Linked DNA regions of Homo sapiens. The protein of the gene in region 4 interacts with the protein of the main gene of each other region in a pairwise test. Each region holds a gene or a part of one and is shown on either strand. Other genes may lie near its edges.

Region 1 (3,500 bases), on a different chromosome or scaffold from region 4:
CCCTTGGCTCCAAGCTCCAGCCCCAACAGCATCAATGCAGGATAAGTTTCCTGCTCCAATCAGCTGGGAATGACTTCCAGATCTACTGGCTTTAACAAACTCCATATCCTTAAAACAATTCGAATGGATCATGATATGAAGATTTATTATCTTGGGAGGCTTCAGTTTTTAAAGTACGTTGACATGCACTATTGCACTTGATTCTTGTAACAAATTTGTAAGAAAACAAGGGTAGCTATTATTAGTCCCTCTTTATCATTATTATGAAAACATTTCTAAATAGAAAAATTGAGGACCATAAATGTATACGGAAAATTTGTTTTTAAAAGAAATACCCAAGTGAAAGCACAATGTTCTCAAGATCCAGGTCAAGTTTTCTTGTATAGAAGGAATAAGTTTAACATAAAAACCATAAGTTTCTATGAATATATCTTGTTAATAAATTTAATGATGTGACTAATTCCCAAGCTCTATGTTACTTAGAGAACTATACTTAGGATACTGTGTATTCATCCATACAATAAAGTTTTTTTACCCAACAATTTCAGATTTCTCACATCTTTATTGAGAAGTTCACAAGTAATGAAACTTCATTAGGATAAAAAATGAGAGGTACAGCAAAGTTTTCTCTCTAAAAATTACTGGTGTGCAATAAATTTTTCTCTACAATATGATCCCAAATCTTTAAAAGTAAAATATATCAACTAATATTAGGTTTGGTATCAGAAAATTTCATTGTAACTTTAGAAACCAATATACTTGACCTAATAGTGTGTTACAAAATAGATGTATCATGCTAAATCAAGCCATATTTTAAATAAGCAAAGATTCTCACCAATTTAAAGGCATTGACCAAGTATCATTTATAATACCTAAGAATCATTTTGAAATGTGAATAATTAATCCAATTTATCTGGTTTACAAGTCTATAATTTTCATGCCAAGCACACCTTGAGCACAGGATAAAAATGTAAATTCCTTGGCCGGGCATGGTGGCTCACACCTGTAATCCCAGCACTTTGGGAGGCCAAGGTGGGCGGGTCACCTGAGGTCAGGAGTTTGAGACCAGCCTGGTCAACATGGTGAAATTCCATCTCTACCAAAAATACAAAAATTAGCTGGGTATGGTGGTACACACCTGTAATCCCAGCTACTCGGGAGGCTGAGGCACAAGAATCACTTGAACCTGGGAGGCAAAGGTTTCAGTGAGTGGAGATTGCACCACTGTACTCCAGCCTGGGCAACAGAGCGACACTCTGTCTCAAAAAAAAAAAAAAATTAAATTCCTTGATATAAAATAAAATACTCCATTTAAATGGTCATACAGCCCACTCTCTATTGCTATTCAAAAATTATATAAAATTTAAAAATATATAATCTCTCTTACAAACTTGTTTTACTGTTTGGTAACCATAGTCAGAAAGCTCCCTTTTGAAAAACCTAACTTTTTATTTCTGACACTCAGGCCTCAGATTCACTTCTCTTTTGAGATGTTATGTGGTAAATGGAAAGCATTCTAAGCCCTCAGCTGATGGAAATGGTGTATGATTCAGTACAGAAAAGTTAAATATTACTTGGTCCAATCAAATATCTCCCTCTGTAATGAGGAGGAAAAACAAATACCCTGCCCTCACTCATACACTATTCTGTATTAAAAGTCTATACTATAGTTTCAGAAACTTCTGTTAATAAAAATTTTATATTTTATTATTTAAAATCAGATTCCTAGCAAAGGAAAATTTAGATTCCTTAGTATCTAAAAAGAAATTCCAAGATATTACCCAAGATAAAATATTTCAATTTTTTTTCAAAGAGGGTGGAAAAGAAATGTTTGTGCATATAAAGGGATAGCACTCTAAGGAAATGATTAATGACTATTTTAGAATAGCAATTTTAAGTTACTAATCACAAGTAGTGTAAATATTGCCAACAGAAATTATATAACTCAGCTAAATTTTAGAGAAACATTTAAAAATTAGTAGTATTTCAACACAATAAGACTTTCAATGTGATAGGTAAGAAAGTGAATATAAGTAATTAAGAAAATTTTTTTACATTATAAGATGTAGCACCTGTAAGTATACACGTTTTCAGAAAAAGTAACAATTCAGTACAACAATTTCTCACTTTTAACTAAACTGTTGTCTCTCAAATGGGCATTTCCAGTGATTTTTTCTCCTCCATTTCTTTTTATACTAGATGGCTCAGACCACTCTCAACTCATGTTTAGAGACTCTTTCCTGATCACTAGAAAGAATTATGTGTGTTTACCTGTATGTTTCAAACTGGAAGCTGAATTTTAAGACATTTATACATATTTTACTCAAAATACAGCCTCCTTGTCCTACTTTGCACTCTCCACCTTACAGCTTAAGTCCTTTGTAAAAAAAGCTGGAGTGAGAAGCAGGAGCAAACTTGAGAAAAAGAGAAAACACCACTGAATACCTAAATGAATTTTATATAATCCCAGACTCCTTTTTCAAATAGAAATTCAGTTTCCCAAATGGTATTTCCTGTGTCATAGAATGGCAGTGATAAGACTAGATAATGCAAAATATTCTTCAATTTCATTTCATTTTCATCTTGGCTTCCATCTCTCTGTACCCTTTCCTATTTCTCTGACTTGCAGCTACCTAACATTCAAATGCCTTTACCTATCCTAACCACAGGAAAGAGGAAATGAAAATAGTTCAACATTTAATCAGAGAACGTATGTACCCCCTTCTCTTTCCTACCATTCCATCTATCTTCATATGTTAGAAAAGATTTTTTAAAGTAATGGTATCTCTAGTATAATGCATTTGAACAATATTTTTGTGCTAGTCTTAAGACAAAATAATCATACTGCTTATTTTTTGAAAATATGTGGAGAAATAATTCTTGCTTTTTGGGTGAAAAGAACTTTGACATGTATGAACCCGATACATCACTGTAAAGTACAAAAAAAAACAACTAGAGTCTTATTAAATTCACAGTCTGAATCATAAAAGTAGATGCCTGCAAAACAATTTGGTTCAAAGGGAATTTCAAATCAAATATGACCATTCTCAAATAAATACTCAGACACTGACAGAATTTCTTGAATTTTAAAAGGAAATTTCAATGAAAGATAATTATAGCAAACTTTAGAGACTTGCTGAATCCATTTTATGGTTAGTATTAACTTCAACTAAATAGCAACAACAAAAAATAAGGCCACGGCTGCTCTGACTCACTGAGGTTTACAAATGCACAGTGATGTTTGGGGACATAAAATGCTCTAAAGCACGTGAAGAAGTCATCAGAGCCATTTTGTGTTTGAAATCTTGTGAGATTAATAAGTTGTACACACACAAAAAAATTGCAACCAACTTTTTAAAACTCTGGCAGGGTGCAGTGGCTCATGCCTGTAATCCCAGCACTTTGGGAGGGCAAGGTGGGTGGATCACCTGAGGTCAGGAGTTCAAGACCAGCCTGGCCAACCTAGTGAAACCCTGTCTCTACTAAAAACACAAAAATTA
Region 2 (3,500 bases), on a different chromosome or scaffold from region 4:
GCTGGTAGGTGTCTACATCATGAACTGTGAGAGGAGACAGAAATGCATTCTCAGAGATCCTTGCTGACCTTAGAGAACACACAAGCAACTGTGACAAACCTGAAACAGAAAGTCCTTACTAGTTGCTTTAACATGCCTAGTCAGGTATAGAGTGTCTGGCTGGATGATCAAGAGGGAAAAAAAACAATGAGTCAATGCTTCTTTGCTAGAGCTTGCTGAGAATGTTGACGGATGTTTAATCTCTGGGAAGATAGAAAGAAGAGAGTGTTTTGAAAGTGATCTTTAAGTCTTCTTCCTCAGACATGGAATTTCTAAAATGACTGGCCTTTTCCTAGAGTAGGAAGCCAAGTAACAGGGTGAGGAAGCCACAACAGATATGACAAGACTTCCCTGGGTATTGGTCCATGCCTACCTATAGCTCTGAACCTAGGCACACCATTCAAGAAAGTAGGAAAGACTGAAAATGAGGAGGCACTGCAAACAGTAAGTCACCTCAAGTAGTGCATGGCCAGATCCTAAAGCAGAGACCTTTGCACCTAGATGGGGTGGAATGACAATTATTAGAAGGAGAAAAGAGAAAGTGATTTTTCACCAAGTTTGATGAAATGCCTGGGAAATTTCAACAGGAATTTGGGAATATAGAGTACAGCAGAACCACACAGAATATATTTCTTAAGAGTTAAAAAAAAAAAAAAGCAGTTAAGAAAGCTGCCAGACTGTGTTGTTTAAATCTTTATGTGAAAAATCATAAACGTAAGGTAATCTCTAGACAGCACAGATCAAACATGCCCTAAAGACATCAGTGTTGGCTTAACCTTAATAACATATTTTAGTGACGGATTAGTCTGCAGAAAGTTAATATAAGATTTTTAAAAGAAGAAAGAGTTTCTTTAAAAAAATTTACAAGAGAAAATGTTAGAGGGGGAACTTATATATTAAGAGATACTTAAAAGATCTATCAAGTAATTATAATATGTGGATCTTCTTGGGATCTTGATGAAAACAAAAACATGTTAAAAATTTTCATGACACAATTAAAAATCTGAACAATGACTGGCCTTTGGATGATATTAAATAATTATTGTTCATTAATTTTTAGGTGAGGTATTGATATTGTGGTTATATAAAAAGACAGCTCTTTTATTTTTTGATATACATACTAAAACACTTACAGATGAAGTATTATGATGTTTGGAGTTATTTCAAAATAATACGGGAGGGAGAAGTGGATGAAAGTATGGATGAAACAAGACAGTCCACAGGCTGATAAATCTTGGAGCTGGATGATGAGTTCATGGGCTTTATTTTATAATTCTACCTTTGTAATCTTTGAAAGTCAACTATGAAACAGAAAGTTTAATAATTTTTTTCAATTTAAAAAAAGAGAAAAGAAGACATAGAGGTCCTTTCTGAAACAGAGTAACATCACTGTTAAGCCTCAGATTTTAAAAAGTCTCCAAAACTGATTGGCCACTGCTAATCTTGGAAGTGATTCCTTCCAGAGCAAAAAAACATTTGGATCCCTAAATAGAAACATTCAACCACCTGTTTGATAAAACTGTAGGGAAGAAGGCCATTTTCTGACAATGTGTTGATAGGAAACTCTGTTATACCTTTCCAGGTTCCTTACAGCAAAAGCAATAAAGGATGCAGGAGTGGTGTTTCCCTCTTCAATCTCCTACCTTGCCAACCACCCAGCACCTTAGATACTACAGCGTGGGGCTAGAGACTCAATCTGGGGAATTTGCTTTCACCCTGGAGGCATCATGACTGAGGCATGTACCTTCAATTTCCCACAGGAAATGCTGCATATATTCTAAGTATTCATAGACACACTTGGACGTTTCTGGGGAAGGCCTCACACACAGGCCATGAGATTGGTGGAAGTTTGTATCACTTAGAGACCAACTCCAGAGTAATGTTAGCTCGCTTCTGTTAAATGATTTATTCACTTGTCTAAGGGATTCTTGAGCCTAAAGTAGGCCTTGTCAAGGGACAGCAAGAGAGGGTAGCAAAGTCACTGTAGATAAGCTGAAGCTGTTATTGGGTAGATGAGGCCAATTTTATCCCTGGCATCTATTTGTATTATTTTTTGTGCATTGAGGAAAGGGTGATTCTAATAGCTGCCATTTATTGAGTGTATCCTATGTGCCAGGCACTGAGCCATGTATATTACTGACATTACAGATGTAGAATGTATTATCTCAATTTGGTTAAAAACTTTATAAGACAGGTATTATTTGGCAAAGTAGCTTAACCAGTTTACCAAATCTGCACTGTCATTAATTTTCTTTTGTTTTTAGAAACCATGAATGCAATCAACAAAACAAGAAGAAATTCAAGTTATTTCAAACATATGAGGAAATTATAAAAAGCAACAACAAAAGCAGCATTAATAACAATATATGTTGTACACTGTCTTATTCAATACTTTAAAAAAAAATAAAAGGTAAGTGTCAGCAGTTCTCAAAGTGTGATTCAAGGACCCTAGGGGGGTGTCTGAGACTGTTAGAAAGCTTGCTAGGTTTTCCTTTCCTAACTGTCTTTAAAACTGCATTTTCTTCATAAATTTCAACCAAAACAACATATCACAACTGTTTGAATGTGGATACATATATGAGAATCTAGCTTTCTTTCTGTCAAACAAGATATTAAAAGAGATTTTCAAAACTGTGGGCCGGGTGCAGTGGCTCACGCCTGTAATCACAGTACTTTGGAAGGCCGAGGTGGGCAGGTCACCTGAAGTCAGGAGTTCAAGACCAGCCTGGCCAACATGGTGCAACCCAGTCTCTACTAAAAATACAAAAATTAGCCAGGGATGATGGCACATGCTTGTAATCCCAGGTACTCGGGAGGCTGAGGAAGGAGAATCGCTTGAACCCAGGAGGCAGAGGTTGCAGTGAGCCGAGATCCCGCCACTGCACTCCAGCCTGGGTGACAGAACAAAATTCCATCTAAAATAAATAAATAAATAAATAAATACAATAAATTTTCAAAACTGTAAAACAATGCCTGTTTTCTCTCTGATTTGTTTTGGAGATTATAGTTTTCAAAAATATGTTTTTATGTTAACCTTAGATGGGTTTATTATTATTATTGAAAATAAAATTATTCCTAAATATTTTAAATATTTCTCAGTTTTAATTTCTAATACCATAAATATCAATAAATATAAGCCGCATAAGCAAAAACTCTTTTGGAGTCCTCGATTATTTTGAAGAGTATAAAGGGGTCCTGACACCAAAGAGCTTGAGAACTGCTGTTCTATGTTAATGCATTAAGTTATTTAAGTGCTAGAGAGTTAAGTTCAGCAAATGTGTTAAGTTTGTCTTAGCATTTTTATTTCAACCAATAGTAATTCATGCGATATTATCATGTCTGGTAAATATAAATAACAGCAATACTGGCAACAAAACACTTTAAATTCATCATTCATTTTTATAAAAATTCCGCAAGGCACATGTTATTTGATGAAGTTAACTTCAGAAAAATTAAGTAAG
Region 3 (4,160 bases), on a different chromosome or scaffold from region 4:
AGGCGACGCCGGGGACAGTTGTGTCATCTGGGGAGTGGGGAGCGTCGGGCCTGGGAGGGATTGGGGTGTGTTAGGATCGTAGAGCTGGGGGTCGGGCCCACGTTGGGGTGGAGTCTCCTCCAAGCACAGGGCTGAGGCGGGTCAGTCCGGGAGGGAACTGGAGGAGGGGGGCTTACCTGGAACTGCACATAGTCCCAGCTCTCCTCGGCCGCGGTCTCCTCGGGGTTGGTGCCGTACTTTTGGATGGTTTTCTCTACGACGTCCCGCAAGCTTCGCTCCAGCTGAGAGGCCACCAGTGAGGCTGGGCCTTATCTTCCCCGCCCCACCCCTCCCCCTCTCAGGCTGTGCCAGCCTCAGGCGGGCCCTGTGCATCTCTGGGCCAGTCTCAAATCCTTACTGAATGGCTAGCTCTGTGTACTTCAGGTCTGTCTTTCTGTTTCTTCCACTATTTCTACGGCTCATAAGTCTCTGTCTCTTCTTTCAGGGCGTCTATTTCTTTCTCTTGTTCTCTCTTTTTCCCGTGTGTTTCCCTTTGGAGCTGTTTATGCCTGTCTCCCTTGGTCCAGGTCGGTGTGTCTTTCTATTAATTTATTTTTTGAGACAGGGTCTCACTCTGTCACCCAGGCTGAGTGCATGGCTCACTGTAGCCTCAAACTCCCTGGCTCAAGTGATCCTCCCACCTCGACCTCCCAAGTAGCTGGGACCCCAGGTGCACACCATCACACCCGGATTTTTTTTTTAAATATAGATGGGGTCTCACTATGTTGCCCAGGCTGGTCTCAAACTCCTGGACTCCCACCTCAGCCTCCCAAAGTGCTGGGATTATGGGATTACAGGCGTGAGCCACCAGGCCCAGCCTCTTATTTCTCTTTATCTAGGTTAGCCCCTGTCTGCCCTTGTTTCGGTCTCTCTCCACCCTCTCCCACCACTCCCTTCCCTCTCCTCCCTGCTGGGGGTGGGTGGTGGCCACTGCAGGAAGCTCACCTGGGCCCGCTGAGTGGAGATGAGGATTCCCAGGGTGATCTGTGTGGCAAACAGGAGCAGCAGCATCCCAAAATACTGGGGAGCAGAGTGGAGAGATCAGGCTGACCACCCCTGCAACCCCGGCCCAGGCCATTTTTGAGGGTGGGGATAGGAGTGTTCCTAGGGACGGAGAGGGATGGTGCACTCACCAGGCCCAGGAGGCAGCGGAGCTCCTTGAGGGCCCCCACACAACCCAGGAGGGCGATGCCCATGGTGAAGATTCCTGAGATGGCCAGGACTTTGGACCAGATCTGCAGAGGCACGAAGGCCAAGCCTGGGAGAGGTGAGGGGAGTGATGATGAGCTGTGTGGCACAGCTCCAGGCAGCCCCATTTCCCACCTAGGCAGCCACCCAAGTGGGGAGCAGTATCTTGGTGCCCCTCTCTCTGGGACTCTGTCCCTGCCCCACCCTGAGTCCCTGTTTCCTTCTGAAACTTTCTCTTCTTTCTGGGCCTGTTTCCCGTCCCTGGATCTCTGTCTCTCTTCCTCTTACCCTCTCCTTCCTCCTTCAGCTCCTCCTCGTCCCCAGTAGTTTCAGCCCTATCACTTGTTCTGTGACATTGGCTTGGCTCCTTAAACCTCCCTGAGGCATAGGAGATGATATCTATTTCTTAGGGTTTTTTTTTGAGTTGGAGCCTCGCTCTGTCCCCCAGGCTGGAGTGCAGTGATGTGATCTCGGCTCACTGCAACCTCTGCCTCCCAGGTTCAAGTGATTCTCCTGCCTCAGCCTCCCTAGTAGCTGCGACTACAGGCATGTGCCACCATGCCTGGCTAACGTTTTGTATTTTTGAGTAGAGACAGGGTTTCACCATGTTGGCCAGGCTATTCTCGAACTCCTGACCTCAAGTGATCCACCTGCCTCGGCTTCCCAAAGTGCTGGAATTACAGGTGTGAGCCACCGCGCCCGGCCCCTAGGGTCATTTTGAGAGACACATGAGGACATGTGTTCAACCCAGTCCTCAACACAGGGCAAAGACTTCTTAAATATGAGCGTTTAGGGTTATATTTCATTATTATTTAGGGTCATACTTCATTATTATTTTCCTATTATTAATGTTATTTTGGCTCTTTTACGTCCTTGCTGTATGACATCCATCAAGGGGCTTCCCCTCTCTGAACCTCAAGCGAGGGGAAGGTTTGTGGGGGCATCTGACCAGCCACAAGTCCCGACAGATAGGAAGTGCTTGAGAAATGGCTCTCATGATCATTGTTGTTTGTATGCACAACCCCATTTGCCGGAAGAAGACTCAGGCTCCAAGAAGCCTCCGGTGAGCAGTGGATGGGAGCCTGTAGCCTGCCTGCAGAGTAGGGCACCGTAGGTCTCCCTGAGACAAGGGAGACCCCAGGAAGTTGCTTGGGTTGGGGGAGGCCCTCCCACCTGCCCCAGCCCCCCTCACCCACAAAGGACACGAAGCTGGTCTTGTCAATGAGGATCCAGATGCCGAAGCAGAAGATCAGGCTGCCGAGGACCTGGGGAGAGGAGATGCGGATACGGGGGTGGGCCACAGGGGAAGATGAGGGCTGGGTTAGCGGCAGGGGCTGGGCCCCGGCTGGGTAGCCATGAGGCAACTCACGAAGAAGAAGAGGTTGAAAACGAAGAGGAAGTACTTGATGAGGCTGAGGCAGCTCTCCTGGGCTGACATCTTCACCTAGTGGGGTAAGCGGTCCACTCACCACACAGAAGAGGTGCTGACAGTGGGGGAGACAGGGAGAAAGAAAGAGGCTGAGAGAGAAAGAGAGACGGAGAGCTGAGAGAGAAAGGAAGAACCCCAAAAGAGGAAGTTCCAGGGGTGGGGCTCCACCCACTCCCGCTTCATGTAAGGTGGCTTTCTGTCTCTCTCTCTGTCCCTGTCTCCCTCACCTGCTCCACTGGGACACATGCTCTGGTACCTGAGGGGCCTTGGAATTTGTGGGCACCAAGGACTCATGGGGCAGTCCCTCCCAGGTCTCCATGTCTCAGGCGCTGGGGGATCTAAAGGGACCCCTGATCTACTGGAACCCACCTCTGGGCATGGGGACCTCAGGGCTGACCCTGGACAGCAGCTGACCTCACAGACACTCTGACCTCATGGCCTGCTAAGCTCTCCCATCTCTGCATCCAGCTGTGTCTCCCATTTCCTGCCCTGGGTCTCTTGTTCCTCCTCTCTGGGTCTTTGTCCCCACCTTCCTGCTACTCCCCATCTCTGTCCCCTTATCTCAGCAGAGTCTCTCCCTCCTCTGGGTCTCTGTCCTCCTGCCTCCTGGGGTCTCTATCCTCCCTCTCTCTGTGTTTCTTTATTTTATTTATATATTTGTTTCTTTTTGAGACAGGGTCTCACTTTTCACCCAGGCTGGAGTACGGTGGGGAAAACAGCTCACTGTAGCCTGGGCTCAAGCTATCCTCCCACCTCTGCCTTCTGAGTAGCTGGGATTACAGGTGCACACTACCATGCCTGGCTAATTTTTGTATTTTTTGTAGAAATGGGGTCTTGCTATGGAGTGGGAGTGTTGTATTTTTTATATTTAATTAAAAAAAAACAGAGATAGGGTCTCACTAGGTTGCCCAGGCTGGTCTGGAACTCCTGGACTCAAGCGACCCTCCTGCCTTGGCCTCCCAAAGTGTTGGGATTACAGGCGTGAGCCACTGTGCCTGGCCTCTCTCTGCTTCTGGCCCCTTCTTTGGGTCCTTCCTCCTTTCTCTCTTCATCTCTCTTTTGTTTTTGTTTTTGAGACAGGGTCGCCCAGGCTGGAATGCAGTAGTGCGATCATAGCTCACTGCAGCCCCAACCTTCCCAGGCTCGAGCAATCCTTGCACCTCAGCCTCCCAAGTAGCTGGGACTACAGGTGCACACCACCATGCCTGGCTAATTTTCTTCATTTTTTGTAGAGATGGGAGTCTCACTGTGTTGCCTAGGCTGGTCTCAAATTTCTGGGCTCAAGTGATCCTCCTGCCTTGGCCTCCTAAAGTGCTGGGATTATGGGCGTGAGCCACTGTGCCCAGCCTGTCTTCTTTTCTCTGTCTCCCCCTTCCCCACTTGTTTTTGTGCCTCTCAGAGTCTGCAGCCTGTTCTGGACCAGGGAGCACCCAGGTGCTGGGGGCAGGGGCTGGGTACCTGGGGAAGTGAAAGTGCTACAGGCTCGAGGTGGGAAGGTCCCTGG
Region 4 (3,358 bases):
TTCCCTTCTCTTGCATGCTCTCTCTCCCCTGTCACCATGTAAGACGTACCTCTTCCCCTTTTGCCATGATTATAAGTTTCCTGAAGCCTCCCCAGCCATGCAGAACTGTGAGTCAATTAAACCTCTTTTCTTTATAAATTACCCAGTCTCGGGTATGTCTTTATAGCAGTGTGAAGACGGACTAATACAATATGCTAATGCAAGTGGGAAAACTAAGATTGATTTTGGAATGAAACATGCAGTCTCAACTTAAGAACACCCAATTTACAAAACTATATATATCCAGACAGAGTCATACTGAATGCCATGTTCTCCCACATCAATGTCAAATGCTTAGCATGGCCAGCAAAAAGCTGTTCCTTTGCTGTAATGCAACCGTGTCTTCTGAATATGGATCCATATTCACTTTCCATCTTATCCTCCATCAGACACACTCTTCTTTTCCTAAAGCATTTGCAGGGCAACAGAGGGTTCCAGGTTTCAGAATTTAAACAGTCGTATCTCATTGAAAATAAGTTTAATGATTATTAAGTTTCCAAGCTAGATTACAGAAGTCTTTTTAGCCCATATCATAAATAAAATAGTTCTGAATTTTTCGTATGGAAAAATATACTCTGAGTTCCAAGCAAACAACTTAAGAAAATTTTTAGAACTAACACATTCCTATATTGGGAAGAGCTCAAAAGTCTGTTCTTCCTCCCCATCCACTGTTGTTTAATTAATCTCTTAATATCATAAAGTCCCTCATGTGCCAAGTGTAGACAGTCATTTTTGAATCAGGGCTCACTTTGTTAGCTTTTTTGTCAATTAAACCTCTTTTCTATATAAATTACCGAGTCTCAAGTATGTCTTCATAGCAGTGTGAAAACAGACTAATACAGGAATTTGGTACCAGGAGTGGGGCATTGCTATAAAGATACTTGAAAGTGTGGAAGCACCTTTGGAACTGGGTAACGGGTAGAGGTTGGAAGAGTTTGGAGGGCTCAGAAGAAGACAGGAAGATGAAGGAAAGTTTGGAGCTTCCTGGAGACTTGTTGAATGGTTTTAACCAAAATGCTGACAGTGATGTGGACGATTAAGTCCACACTGAGGTGGTCTCAGAAGGAGATGAGGAACTTATTGGGAACTGGAGTTGCCAATAGATCAGCAGTTAACCAGAAGCTTGAGTTGAGTATGGACCTGACATATGGATAGACATATTGACATCTTATGCTAGTGTTCTGGCCCTCCCTGCCCCGACAGTGATAGAAGCATCCATCAACGCCCATCCTGACATCAGCATAAAGCACAGGTTGGAGAGATTGTAGATAAAGGCAGAGAGGCTATTATAATGCTTCTCACCTCCAGTTCCCCAGATGGAAGACAAGGAGGCCCTGGAACAAAGGAATGGCATTTGGGACAAAGTGATGTTGGCAAGTAAGAAATGCAGCAGTGGTCCAACCCACAGGAGATGCCAGACAATTGCTCATGGCATGAGATAGGGTCATGAGGAAAAGCTGAAGAACTGAAAATCTTTCTTCTTCCCTCCCTAGGCATTCATGCTCCCACCTCATCTACATCCCACAGATCCTCCATTTTCTCTAGGTATGAGATTTATTTCCAAGCTAGACTGAAAGCTGGAAGAAGATGGGACACATGTCTGCTTCATTTTCTATTTCCCCAGCATGTAGGTGCAGCACCCAGCCCCTAGTTGTTTATCAATTATAGGTCTTGATGGTCATGTCCCCAGCCTCCCGCCTCAGGAGTAGGCTTCACATGTCTCCCTTTCAGAAACAAAGCCACGTAAGACTCCAAAACCCCGCCTTCCCTTGGGCTCCACACAATCAGCATACATCTTTCCTTATCTGTTTTGTGCTCTGAAAATCGTGTCTACCTCCAAATGATACATCTTTAAAGTGAGTCACCCCTCCTCACAATCTACTCCAAAATTTCCAACAAGTTTTCTTCTTTTCATTCTTCCTCCCACCAGCCTATCCTATTCCCTTCTCTCCCCCCACAAAATCTAGCTCTTCTTTAAATACATTTAAACATTTTCGCTAGGACATTTCATCTATACAGGATATGCTATATTCTAACTATTTCTTAGTAAACATTGAAGGGAGTTTCTTCCTTTATTCAAGTATGGAACCCTGCTCAATATCCTTTTGGTCTTCATATGCCTTCTTTCAAGGCCTTTGTGAAATTTTTTTCCATGCCTGAAAGCCGGTGGGGTTTTACACAGGGACTGCGATGGCTAAATCCAAGGCAGAGTGGGATCTTTATCTATTAACCATTTGATAACTCAAGTTTATCCCTTGATGAATGAATAAGTTATCATTTGCCTTTGGGTCCCATTCTTGAGTGGTCATGGAGAGTTCTGTAGCTCACCCTCTTTATACTCATAATTTGCACAAATTTCACCTAAGAGTATTTACTTAACCACTTTAATTCAATTTGTCTCTACCTAAGACATTTAATTCAACAAATATTTTTTAAGCTTCTCTATAAAAGGGACTCTGGCAACTTTCAGACCCGCACTGTAGCACCAGCTCTCTGCTGGCCCACCCCTTGCAGACTTTGGGCTTGCCTGCCTTCAAAATCATGTGAGTCAATTCCTTAAAATAAATATATTTTTATTTATTTATATATATGTTTGCACACACACGCGAATCTTATTTTTTCTGTTTCTCTGGAGAATTCTGACTAATGCACCCCCATTCACCATCCAGGCTTTTGAGGAGAAAGATACCAATCTTAGCAGCAGAGGACACTCTGGATAGAGCTAGGAGTTTGTTGCAGAGTCTGACAAAAGTTCCCTCTGCAGAAGGGATGGAAGGATAGCCTTGGGGGTTGATTTAGGACTGGGTGTATGACATGGGGGAAAAGAAATCCCTGGGGGAGCTAAATGAGGGGAGGTGGACCCCTTATGATAGTTTATCAGAGCAATCTAAGAAATCATGTAGGCCTCTAAGAAAGCATCAAGAATCAATGCAATTTGATTAATTGACTTAAAATATGTTGAACTTTTCAGCCTCCATTGTGTATTTTTGGTGCAATACTCTGTGCAACTATTTCATCCAAGACCAGAAGGGGCTGGAAGATTGCCTGCTTCACATTAAAACCCTCCTTATTGTATTGGTGCTGACACGACACAAGGATATGCAGTCTTTATCCAGTCCTTATTGCTCACAGAAAGATACCAGTCCTTACTGCTCACAGAAAGTAGTGAAGCCTCCCTTCACTCACAGAGCCCACACAGGTATGCCCTGGTTTATGTAATGAATGGGCTGCTACAAATAGGTGTGATGCATGCCTTTGTGAATCACTTTATATTTTGAAGACACATTAGAGGAGCTGGCTATTTCAAAGAAATTTCACA
Region 5 (3,500 bases), on a different chromosome or scaffold from region 4:
GTGCCTGGGTTTGCTTCATCCACAGCCTGAGTGACTCTTAAGTTTCTAACTTCTTGACCATTAGTGACTACTTGCTATGGGAAAAGCACTTCAGACTTCACAAGATGAAACTATCCTAGGGCTTGTCATTTTGTTCAGTCCTCAACTTTCTACTCCATAGCCTATTTCTATGCAAACATCAGCATGTGGAGCTAGATGCTGGGAATCACAGAAGATTACATCTATTCCCCACTGGAACTCCTGTGAACCACCAGGGCCTCTGTCTCTGGCTCATATGAGTTTTACTGGTCCACTACAGGGAGGCCAAGAGTCAGGGAGGGCTTGTAACAGAAGGGTTGAGATGGGGCAAGAACAGGTGGCCTGTCCTTGACAGTTTGGTAGATATAAGAAGCTAGAGCAGGCCAGGCCCTACTGGCTTGTCCAATTCCTAGTTTTACACTGGGCTAGGAGATCTGCATCCCTTATTGCACACCAACCCCATCTCCACCGTTTGAAACTGCTCTCAGGATCACCCACTCCTGCTCTCCTAAAGTACTTTAAAGGCACCTGGTGGGGTGGAGAGACAGGGGAACTCACCAGAAGGTCCCTGGAGGCCAGGGGGTCCTTGAGGACCAGGAGGACCTGGAGGACCAGGTGGTCCCATAACAGTTGTTCCTGGAATTCCAGGAATCCCTGGAATTCCTGGGGGTCCCTGGGGTCCTGGAGGTCCTGGGGGTCCTGGAGGGCCATTGGGTCCAGGAGGTCCTGCTTTCTTTCCTGAAAAATAGGATTCAGTGTTACTTTTTTTTTTGAGACGGAGTCCTGCTCTGTTGCCCAGGCTGGAGTTCAGTGGCACGATCTCGGCTCACTGCAACCTCCACCTCCCGGGTTCAAGCGATTCTCCTGCCTCAGCCTCTGGAGTAACTGGGATTACAGGCGCGTGCCACCGCGACCTGCTAATTTTTGTATTTTTAGTAGAGACGGGGTTTCACCATGTCGGCCAGGTTGGTCTCAAACTCCTGACTTCGGGTGATCTGCCTGCCTCAGCCTCCCAAAATGCTGGGATTACAGGCGTGAGCCACCGCGCCTGGCCTCAGTGTTACATTTGTAGTTATTTCCTGTGATGAGTGTACTGTCAGGAGTTCTACAGACTTCTGAGGACACAAAGTCAGCTCTCTGGGAGGCCCTGCTAAAGAGTTGGATACCTTTATCACACATCTCTGTCTCCCTGTCTCCGTCTGTCTTATGCTTTCTCTCCCCTCCCCCCACTCCCTTTTGTGAATATGCATTTACAAAGCTAGGTTTGAGCATATAGAAATAAGTGGCCCTCCAGGAGATCAGTCTGTGTCTGTGGGGAAACAGACACAGTCATGGGATAGTAGAAGTGCTACCTTAGTGGGTAGGGACCAAATGCTGAAGAGGTCAGAGAAGGTTTCAAAAAGGAGGTTACATTTCAGCTGAGTCCAAAGGATGAGAATTTCTCTACCAAGTGATTAGACCTATGGGTCACTTTGTGGTTCTTTTTAGAAAGGGCTATTGTTGAAGAATGTGGAGCTTTTATGTTTACTGCCCAGTTTGGTGGACTTGATGTCGATAACAAGAGGAAGCCGTACAGCCTGGCCTTAGGAACAGTATCAGCTCCAGGAAGGTTCCTCCAGGAGTCAGGATGTACAGGAAATGGGGGTTGGGATGGGGACAGTGCTAGTCGGGAATGAGGAATGGGAAGGAGTTTTGGAGATGGGGGAATGGAGAAGGAGGAAGAGGGGCACGGAAAGAGGAGGAGGGAGAGAGAGAGATATTGAGAAACAGGAAAGAAGCAGAGACAGAGAGTAGAGGGAGCTGAGGAGGAGGCAGCAAGTTTCACTCTCTCAGCTGACCTCTGTAAACTCTATTTTAAAAGATCTCTGGGAAAGGAAATTCTGCAAACTCCATAGTAACATGTTCCAATGTTTATTGCCCCTCACTGCTCACTGTTAGGAAGTTCTCTGGTATATTAAATGATGTCCCTCTTGTGGCAGTTTAAGCTCTTATTCTATTTGTGTAGACAGAGAAGAATATACATATACATAATAATCCTTATATATGAAAAGAAATTAAGTTACCCACCAACCCCTATTTCTATAGGCTAAATAATCCAGCTTCCCAAAGTCTTTCCTCAGAAGTCCCATTCTCAAATGTATTATTAATCATGCCCACCAACTCTTCCCCCTTTCCTCCTTGCTATCCTTCTAGAACAATCTCGACCCTCCTATTTCATATTCCAGTCCTTTCAACATTCCCACCAGGATGTAGTTATCTTAAATGAGTCATAACTGTGGTCTTGAACCAAAACCTCCAGCTCTTCCTGTTGACTTCCTCTGCTCTGTGCAGCTCCACTCAAAGACTACATGTAGGCACAGGTCTTCTTCCTTCCTTCACCACCTTCTCACAATTTTATGGAAAGTTTCAGGAATGGAAGCCTGTTTCCAGACTTCATCACAATGTCTTCACCTGAGGTAGTTTCTTAGTTTTAAATACAACCTTCTCTAGTCTCACTAAAAACCTTCTTACTGACTCTGACTTCTTGCTCCCCAGACACTTAGGCAGGAGAATCTTGTCCTGATTTATCAGGTCCTCCCTTAAGAACAATGCCTCATGGCCAAGAAACCCAATCCTCATGGCAATGCCACTCAAGAGGCCATTTGTCTATGTCTAACCACATCTGCATTTGGAATGAAACCATGGGGTCATCGTGGGGTCTCTTCCTCAGAAAGGAAGGAAAGGAAGGTCCAGAGAACATCTCTCCCAGAAGAGTCCCTGTAGCCTTAAAGACCTAGAGGCATGAGCTTTAGAGGTTTCTCTGCACTTAGCAGCAAAAGATTGGATCTGCCCCGTTTCTAGATCTAGCCAATTTCAAGATGCTGAACAGGAAAACCATCTCCTTTCAGATTTGGGCAGCTTCCAAATCAGGCTTATTCAGAGCCCAAGTTTCAATTCCAGCTAGTGTAGTGGAAAGAACACAAAATCTGTACTCAGGAGATAAGGATGTAAGCCCCAGCTCTGCCACAGACACACTTTGGGCAAATCCCTTCCTCTCCTTGAGCCTTAGTTTCTACATCTGTGAAACAAGGAGCTTGGCCTCAATGATTTCTCTGTTTCCTCATGAGACTGAGTTTCTATAAGGAGGGGTGGCTTACCCCTTGCAGTCAGGAAGCTTTCTTAGCCTGGTTGTAAGGTTTGCTTCTCCCTCCTTATTTTCTAGGTGGCACAGACACAGAAGTTGGTGCATATTAGGCTGTCCTGTGTTCCAAGATTTCCAAGCCTAACAGTGATTTTCAAGCTAGAGGGTGTTCTGTGGGTAGCACAAACTTCACCTTCAAGAATGTGAGTCTCCTGTAATTGCTAATGTAATTTTGGAAGAATTAGAGCCAGAAACTCCTCCAGTCCAAGAGACTAATGGTTGCAGTGAAAACAGAGAATGTTCACTTATGAAAATGTTAGAAGGCATTTGAGAAAAAAAAAAACTCCTGCTTTGTTCCAGT
Region 6 (3,500 bases), on a different chromosome or scaffold from region 4:
TAAAAATGCAATAGTATAATAAACTCCCATGTATCTAAGACCCAACCCCCAAAATCATCAATCCATTGCCATTTCAGGAGGGTTCATTTTCAAAATGAAAGGTGACTCTTTAAAGCTATCAGCGGAAGAGTCCCATGCCACGGGGCAGGGAAAATGACCATTTACCTGAGATACTAAAACACTAAAAGGATAGGTAACTTGCCCCAAAGCAGACAGTGGGCTGCCTGGCCTTACACTTGAGGCCCCAAAGATGTTGGTCTTTGCTGACAAAACCCTATAATTGGTGTTGGCTCTACCCACTTGTCCACTGACCCCTTCCAGAGCTCCACTCTCCCCAGATCCAAATGGTGGTGCTTAAATTTGGGCAGGAAAAAGCAATTTAATCTATAGACCTAATGGAGCAACACCACCAACCAAGTGGCTGACTGACTTCACAGAAACTTTGAAATCCCAGTACCTAGGAGAATCCAAAACAGCTGAAAGGCAATTGTGGCAGACAGAATAATGGCCCAAAGATATCCACATCCTAATCCCCAGAAATTGTGAATATGTTAGATTATATGTTAAAGGAGAATTAAGATTGCCAATCAGCTGCCCTTAAAACAAGGGGTATTAATCTGGATTATCCAATCCAGGTGGACCCAATCTAATCACAGGATCCTTCTAAGTTGAATAGGGAGGTGGGAGAGAGGGTCAGAGCAAGAGAGGTGAGGATGGAAGCATCAGTGAGGTGTGATGTCACTGGCTCTGAAGATGGAGGAAGGGGGCTGTCAGCCAAGGAATACGAGCAGCCTCTAGAAGCTGGAAAGGATAAGGAAATGGATTCTCCCCTAGAACTTCTGGAAAGGAATGCTGCCCTGCCAACCCCTTGGTTTTAGCCCAGTGAGACTGATGTTGGACTCTAACCTACAGAACTGTAAGATAATACATCTGTGTTGGGAGCCATTAGTTCACATAATTTGTTACAGCAGCAACAGAAAACTAACACAGCGGCCATACACAAAGTATCTCTCAGACCCGAGCCCTAGTAGGATCACTGAGGTCCAAAGACACCTCAGCTGCTCCAGAGATTACCCCAACAGTCAACTTACAACAAAGGTCAGTTTGATAAAACAGCTTTAACATAACTTTGACCTTGGCTCCGGTACTGAACAAGTCTCTTGCGGGCCACATGTTTGCTCGTTCGACACGTTTCACTTTTTAATTAGCCAATTAGCAGGCCTTGGGTGCAGAAGGCCCAGGCCATGTATTATTGATACAGCATTGAGCCAGGCTGCTGCAGAGGCCCGCTCTCAAAACCTGAAAATGAGAACTCCAATTCTGCCGGCCATGCTGACAAAAGTATTTTGCTCAAACCCCATTCTTGTCTCCTGGGTCTGAAACTCATATGACAGACAATCGAGGGATTGATTTCAAAAATGTGTTTGCTCTGTGCCCTTCTCCCGATGTTTACATCTGCAGCATCCAGAAATGTGGCAGCCCACATCACTCTCCCCCTTAAAAGACAAGGAAAGCAGCTGGGTGCGGTGGCTCACGTCTGTAATCCCAGCACTTTGGGAGGCTGAGGCGAGTGGATCACCTGAGGTCAGCAGTTTGAGACCAGCCTGGCCAACATGGTGAAACCCTATCTCTACCAAAAATACAAAAATTAGCTGGGTGTGGTGGCACATGCCTATAATCTCAGCTACTCGGGAGGCTGAGGCAGGAGAATTGCTTGAGTCCGGGAGACGGAGGTTGCAGTGTGCCGAGATCATGCCACTGCACTCCAGCCTGGCCGACAGAGCGAGACTGTCTCAAAAAAAAAAAAAAAAAAAAAGATAAGTGAGGTGTGAATTTGCCCCTGGCTCACACATGTGGTACCCACACCTCCAGAGTGTTTTCCAAATACTGACAACAAACTTGTGTCCATGGAAATAATTCCTTAAGTGTGTGTGGTAAAGTACTATTTCCCTTGGAGTTTAATTTCCTTCCTCTTGCCATAGTTAATCCTACAGTGTCAATTTTAGTTCAAAAGTTACACATATAATCTTGTGTACTGTTGTTGTCTAGTGTCAAAATGCTAACCCATGAGCTCTCTGGGACTGCCCTGAATATTCTGTTAAGTTCTCAACACTGAAGATTTTGAAGACGGACCTCAGCTTGAATCCCTGTTCTGCCTCTTGCTATGTGACCTTGGGCAAGTTACCTTAACCTCTGACAGACTCAGTGTTCTTACCTATAAAATGGGGATAATAATGGTACCTATGTCATACTACTTAGGGCTGTCCTGAGGTTTAAATGAGACAGTGCAAACAAAGTGTTTGGCACAGGACCTGGCACACGGAAATCCCTTAAAGAATGTTAGCTATTTTCATGACTATCACTTAAAACATCAAAATGAAGGTTGAGAGGAAAGCTGTGAGAAGGAGTAATGGGACAGAAAAGGTCAATGTCATTGTCAAGATCCCATGGGTCTGAGACCAGCCATGCATGGTAAAGCCATGGTAAAGAACTCCAGAGAAGGATTCTGAGAGAGATGATAAAAATCCATTTAAAGACATGGGTGCTGGCAGGTATGGTCCCAGGTATGAGGACCAAAGAACTCCCAGAAGACTGTTGGGAAAATTCTAGCACATGCAGTTGGAGAAGCATGTCCTCAGCACCCTCAGGGCACCACATCAATTTCAGCCCAGGATCTGCAGTTAGGAGCCCAGGCTGCCAGGAATGGGAACACTTCATCTCGGGTGCAGGCCTGTGACTATCCCTATTTCATTTTCTTTTTTTTCTGTCCCCATGGTACGAGGTGGCTTTCCAACAGGCTGTTTTCAACTTGATGCAAACTGAAGATGAGACCAAATCAGGCAAATAACTGCCTGGTGGGGTTGTAGATGGAATTCAGAGTAAGATTCTTTTCCTGAGTGAAGGGGCAGGGGAACTTAAAACTCCCTCTGAACTTTCCCCGTCATTGGTTGAACTTTACAATTCTGACATCTCAGGCAACCCGATGTCAGGGAACATCAAGGGCAGGACGGATGTGCAGACCAAGAGAAATAAGAATCACAGCTCAGGAGGCAAAACGAAAGCAACAGCTTTACCTTAACTTCCACTTCTGGGGCTGGGAATTCACCAGCTCGCGGGAAAAGCAACAGAACTGATGTGATGATCACAGCACCGAAGAATAAAAAAATGACAGAGAACCTGGGGTTAAAAAGACAAATTATTAAAAGCACTGTCTATAATTTCTTCTTTGATCAGTTAGGTCTGGACAGTCTCTTCCTTGGAGCCAATATTCTATGTTTCAGTCCCTTAACAATGTCCAGAGGCCTGCTGTCAACAACCTCTTCATCCCAAAGTCCTTCTTCCTAGACAGGTACCAGCTGGGTGCATTCCCATTTATTCTTGGTAATTCCCAATTCCTAAGAATGGAAATGTGTAGTTTTTATTTTTACTTCTGCCCAAAGTCATAATCAAGAAAAACCAAAGCATCCCCTCTCCACCTCCACTTCTGTTGTTTTTAGAAC
Region 7 (3,500 bases), on a different chromosome or scaffold from region 4:
CCCCCACCTCCCTGCACCTGCTGCCCACCTGCTGGGTGAGAGATACCGCTGTCTTCACAGGTGTTCTCTGAGCTGCTTGACTGAGAAGCAATCAGGAGAGAATTGCATTTGGGTAGAAAAATCAGTGCAATGAAGACTTTGGATTTATTAAAACCAAGTTGTCCCTAAGGAATCAGATGTGGGCATCTCTGACCAGAAAGCGTCCTCTGCTGATGGATCTTAGGTTGCCTGAAGGCACGTGGCAGGGCCGGTGGGATGCACTGTGCATCTTACAAAAATGGGAGCAAAATCAATTAAATAAAAATGCCCAGACCACCATGGAATAAGATGTGTGTGTAGATTTCATCCACAGTTGAGTTTAAGATTCAACAGATTATGTGGCCTTTTCCATAACGGGCACTGACGGAGGGACAGGAGCACATTGGTACAGGCAGGGCTTGGATTCAGGAGGCATGCGAGGGTGGCATGGAGAAATAGGAGGAGGATCCAGCGGGCACATCCAGTGGGAAGAGGGAGGCCCTGGCCTGGGAACCCCTCTCCTAAGTGCCTTTTGCCTGGTGGCTACGTGACCCTCCCAGGAGGACCAATTTAAGTTGCTTCCTCGTTCACACAGTCTCAGGGAGTCCTGCACGTCTTCTCTGTAGCACTCAGCACAAACACAGGTATATTGGGTTAGGGATAACATGGCGCTTTCCCTGACCAGGTGATGGTGGGCTTGAGGTCTGCCTTGCTCACAGCTGCCTCACTGGTGGGGACCAGGAGAAGACCCATCCAGCCATGCATCGGTGTCCAAGTCAGCTAACGGGCCTTGGTCTCCTGGTACCTGGGTGTGGCTGAACTAGAGCCACTTATGAACCAAACCCCAAAGGAGCAGCTTGGGTTGCACATGGTTGGGAAGAGACTCCGTTATGGAATCCCAGTGGGACCCCGTGGGCCAGAGGCGCTTACGGGTGACCTATACACATGCTATCGAGGAACACTGAATTTCACAGTGAGGAAACGATTTTCCTCCTCCTTTACTCTCTTTGGTTTTTCTGATGAAGGCAAGAAGGGCTCAGGGTGGAGCCAGGTGTCTGGAGTTCTCTAATAGCGTGGATAGGCAAAGGTAAACCGGATAGTGACATTGTTTCTATGCTTATGGTTGCAATGTCATTATTTTGGGAAAAATTAACTGTAAAATACATATGAGGTAAATTAATGCACAGATGGCAGCTGGAAATGGCAAATCTGAGAAGGTAGTCCTCAGCTCCTGTCTGCAGAGTCATCTCACTCCACTCCATTCTTCCCACGTGGCTTAAGATGTGACTGGTGTGAGGAATCAATGGCAGGAAAAGTGAGGGGAAGTCAGTGTGTGGAGAGCTGGTCACAGCCTCCTGTGTGCACCTTGCTGGCTGCAGCCACAGCCTGGGCTCTGAGCTTCCGGCAGCTGCGCGGAGGGCCTTGAGGTCAGGCCAGACTCTGCCCTGTTCCAGTGTGTGCTTTTACCAACCTGATGAAGACTATTTTCCAGCTCCCTGGGAAATTCCATGCTCCCCACACTGGCTCGCAGGTTCCTGCAGTCTATAGTGGGAACCTTGTCCACAGTTGTCCATAGAACAAAGCCCACTATGGGTTTAACCCCAGCTCCTGACAGATCTCAGGACCCCACCCAGCCTCTGGGGGCATCACCTTGCAAGTGAGTCCTTTAAAAAATGAGGCCGACTTTTTTCCTTTGCATGGTATATTTATAGCAGTATGTTTCATAGTGAGATGGTGGGGAGACATTATCTTTTTCTTTTCTTAAACAGCTTTATGAGCTATAATTCACAGCCCATGCAGTTCCCCCATTGAAAGGGTATGATTCCCTGGTTTTCAGAATATTCGCAGATACGTGCGTCCATCACCACAGTCAATCTTGGAACATTGTCATCACCTTGGAAAGAAATCCCATGAGCTGTGGCTTCCCTGCCCCCATTCCAAGCAACCACTAATCTACTTTCTATCTCTACAAACTTCCATATTTTGAACTTTCATATGAATGGAATCATTCAACATATGGACTTTTGTGGCTCACTTCTTTCATTTAGTATAATGTCTTCAGGTGAGAAATTCTCTCTCAAGGGGACTTACACAGAATATCTCTACCGTTGCAGCTGCACAGTGCCCCTTTTGGACCCCACCATTCAGGGGGCCCTGGGTGAGTGTGTCTCATGTCCCTGGAGCCTCCAACCCAGAAGCCTCTGAGGAACCACGTTCCTAGGGACGCTCTTACACCAGTCCTTGCCTGTCCCAGAAACATATGAAGGTGAAGGTAGTCACAGATGTCTCAGCACAGATGACATCATGAAAGCCAGGGGTTTGCTCCCAGGGGATGGGCAGTGGGGCGGTCGACCTTCCGCTCAGCACTGCCCAGGAGATGCCCAGGGAGGACTGCAGAGCCCAGGGTCACAGGGGCCATCTGGGGGACAGGGCGGAGGAGGGTGAAGAGCAATCCTGAGAAGAAGAGGAGGATACGGGAAAGGCACAGCCGAGTCAGGAGAGATTTCATTCCCGGCTAGGTGTCTGTGGAACAGAAACAGCTGTTGCCTCAGCTGAGTCATGCCCCTTGCCTTTGGAGCACAGGCCTTTGCCGCGGTCTTCTCTGGGAGAATTCTAATGCAGAGGCGCCCTGCCAGCTCCCTCCCCTTGGCAGGGGACTCCCGTTCTCAGAGGAGCTGTCCTCCGAAGTCACTGTGGGACGCTGCAGCAAGTGATTCTGCCTCTTGGCCCCAGCTTCCTCTCTGCAAATGGCAACTCACAGCAGTCTCCCCACACTGGGGGCTGGTGTGAACTGGCTAAAACTACAGATGTGAGTATGAAGCTTCTGGCACTGAGCCCAGCACTACCAATACCTGGGAATAAGTTGTCGTTCATGCAGGAGGCTGACAGCTCAGTGGAAACAGATGCATAAGCAGCCACTTAACATGCAGGTGGACAACCAGCCCCGAGTGGGCAGAGCAGCCTGGACAGGTGCATAGGGTCAGTCGAGCCTTGGAGAGAGAGGTGGACCTAACTGGTTAACCAGGCCAAAGGACTGGGAGGGGCTCTCCAGAGGGCAGAAAGGGCACATGCCAAGCTCAGAGGATGCTGAAGCAGCTGTGAGGGCTTTGGAGGCTGAAGGCTGGGCAGCCGGGCTTGGGTCAAGGAGTAGCAGAAGGTGGGGCTCCAGGGAGGGTGAGCCTCCAGCCCCGCTGTGTGCAAAGCTGAGATTTGTTGTAAACCATGAGTCAAATCTGGTTCCTGCCCTGCTCCACCTACTAAATGTACAGAGAGCAAACAGAGTAAGAAGGGCACCCACACCAGGGAGTTAAGGCACTCCTGGGCACAGAGCAATCTGTTCCAGCCTGGCCTCAGGACCCCGCTGGCCAAATATTTGTCCAGAGCAAGGGAGTATGTGAGGGTTCAAGCATTTCCTTTCATCAAGGAGACTCCAGGTGGCTCCCAGCCTCCAGGTGGCAGTGCAAAGAGGCAATTATTTTGAA

What was found.
Region 1: the proteins of EMP1 (region 4) and TLCD4 interact in binary tests that used the Homo sapiens proteins (3 or more experiments, as listed by UniProt).
Region 2: the proteins of EMP1 (region 4) and HTR2C interact in binary tests that used the Homo sapiens proteins (3 or more experiments, as listed by UniProt).
Region 3: the proteins of EMP1 (region 4) and CD37 interact in binary tests that used the Homo sapiens proteins (3 or more experiments, as listed by UniProt).
Region 5: the proteins of EMP1 (region 4) and EDA interact in binary tests that used the Homo sapiens proteins (3 or more experiments, as listed by UniProt).
Region 6: the proteins of EMP1 (region 4) and TMEM218 interact in binary tests that used the Homo sapiens proteins (3 or more experiments, as listed by UniProt).
Region 7: the proteins of EMP1 (region 4) and MAL interact in binary tests that used the Homo sapiens proteins (3 or more experiments, as listed by UniProt).

What each region holds. Positions count from the first base shown.
Region 1 is NC_000001.11:95,144,855-95,148,354, reverse strand, and holds part of TLCD4 (TLC domain-containing protein 4), read right to left. Parts: intron 1-3,500.
Region 2 is NC_000023.11:114,902,086-114,905,585, reverse strand, and holds part of HTR2C (5-hydroxytryptamine receptor 2C isoform a precursor), read right to left. Parts: intron 1-3,500. UniProt on the Homo sapiens protein: G-protein coupled receptor for 5-hydroxytryptamine (serotonin).
Region 3 is NC_000019.10:49,334,046-49,338,205, reverse strand, and holds the start of CD37 (leukocyte antigen CD37), read right to left. Parts: upstream 2,801-4,160; 5' UTR 2,666-2,800; coding exon 2,597-2,665; intron 2,493-2,596; coding exon 2,420-2,492; intron 1,298-2,419; coding exon 1,173-1,297; intron 1,060-1,172; coding exon 985-1,059; intron 282-984; coding exon 177-281; intron 1-176. UniProt on the Homo sapiens protein: Structural component of specialized membrane microdomains known as tetraspanin-enriched microdomains (TERMs), which act as platforms for receptor clustering and signaling.
Region 4 is NC_000012.12:13,217,084-13,220,441, reverse strand, and holds the end of EMP1 (epithelial membrane protein 1), read right to left. Parts: 3' UTR 501-3,358; downstream 1-500.
Region 5 is NC_000023.11:70,025,113-70,028,612, reverse strand, and holds part of EDA (ectodysplasin-A), read right to left. Parts: intron 757-3,500; coding exon 577-756; intron 1-576. UniProt on the Homo sapiens protein: Cytokine which is involved in epithelial-mesenchymal signaling during morphogenesis of ectodermal organs. Functions as a ligand activating the DEATH-domain containing receptors EDAR and EDA2R. May also play a role in cell adhesion.
Region 6 is NC_000011.10:125,098,127-125,101,626, forward strand, and holds part of TMEM218 (transmembrane protein 218), read right to left. Parts: intron 3,396-3,500; coding exon of another isoform or gene 3,318-3,395; intron 3,178-3,317; coding exon 3,075-3,177; intron 1-3,074. UniProt on the Homo sapiens protein: May be involved in ciliary biogenesis or function.
Region 7 is NC_000002.12:95,042,708-95,046,207, reverse strand, and holds part of MAL (myelin and lymphocyte protein), read right to left. Parts: intron 324-3,500; exon of another isoform or gene 61-323; intron 1-60. UniProt on the Homo sapiens protein: May be involved in vesicular trafficking from the Golgi apparatus to the cell membrane. Plays a role in the maintenance of the myelin sheath, and in axon-glia and glia-glia interactions.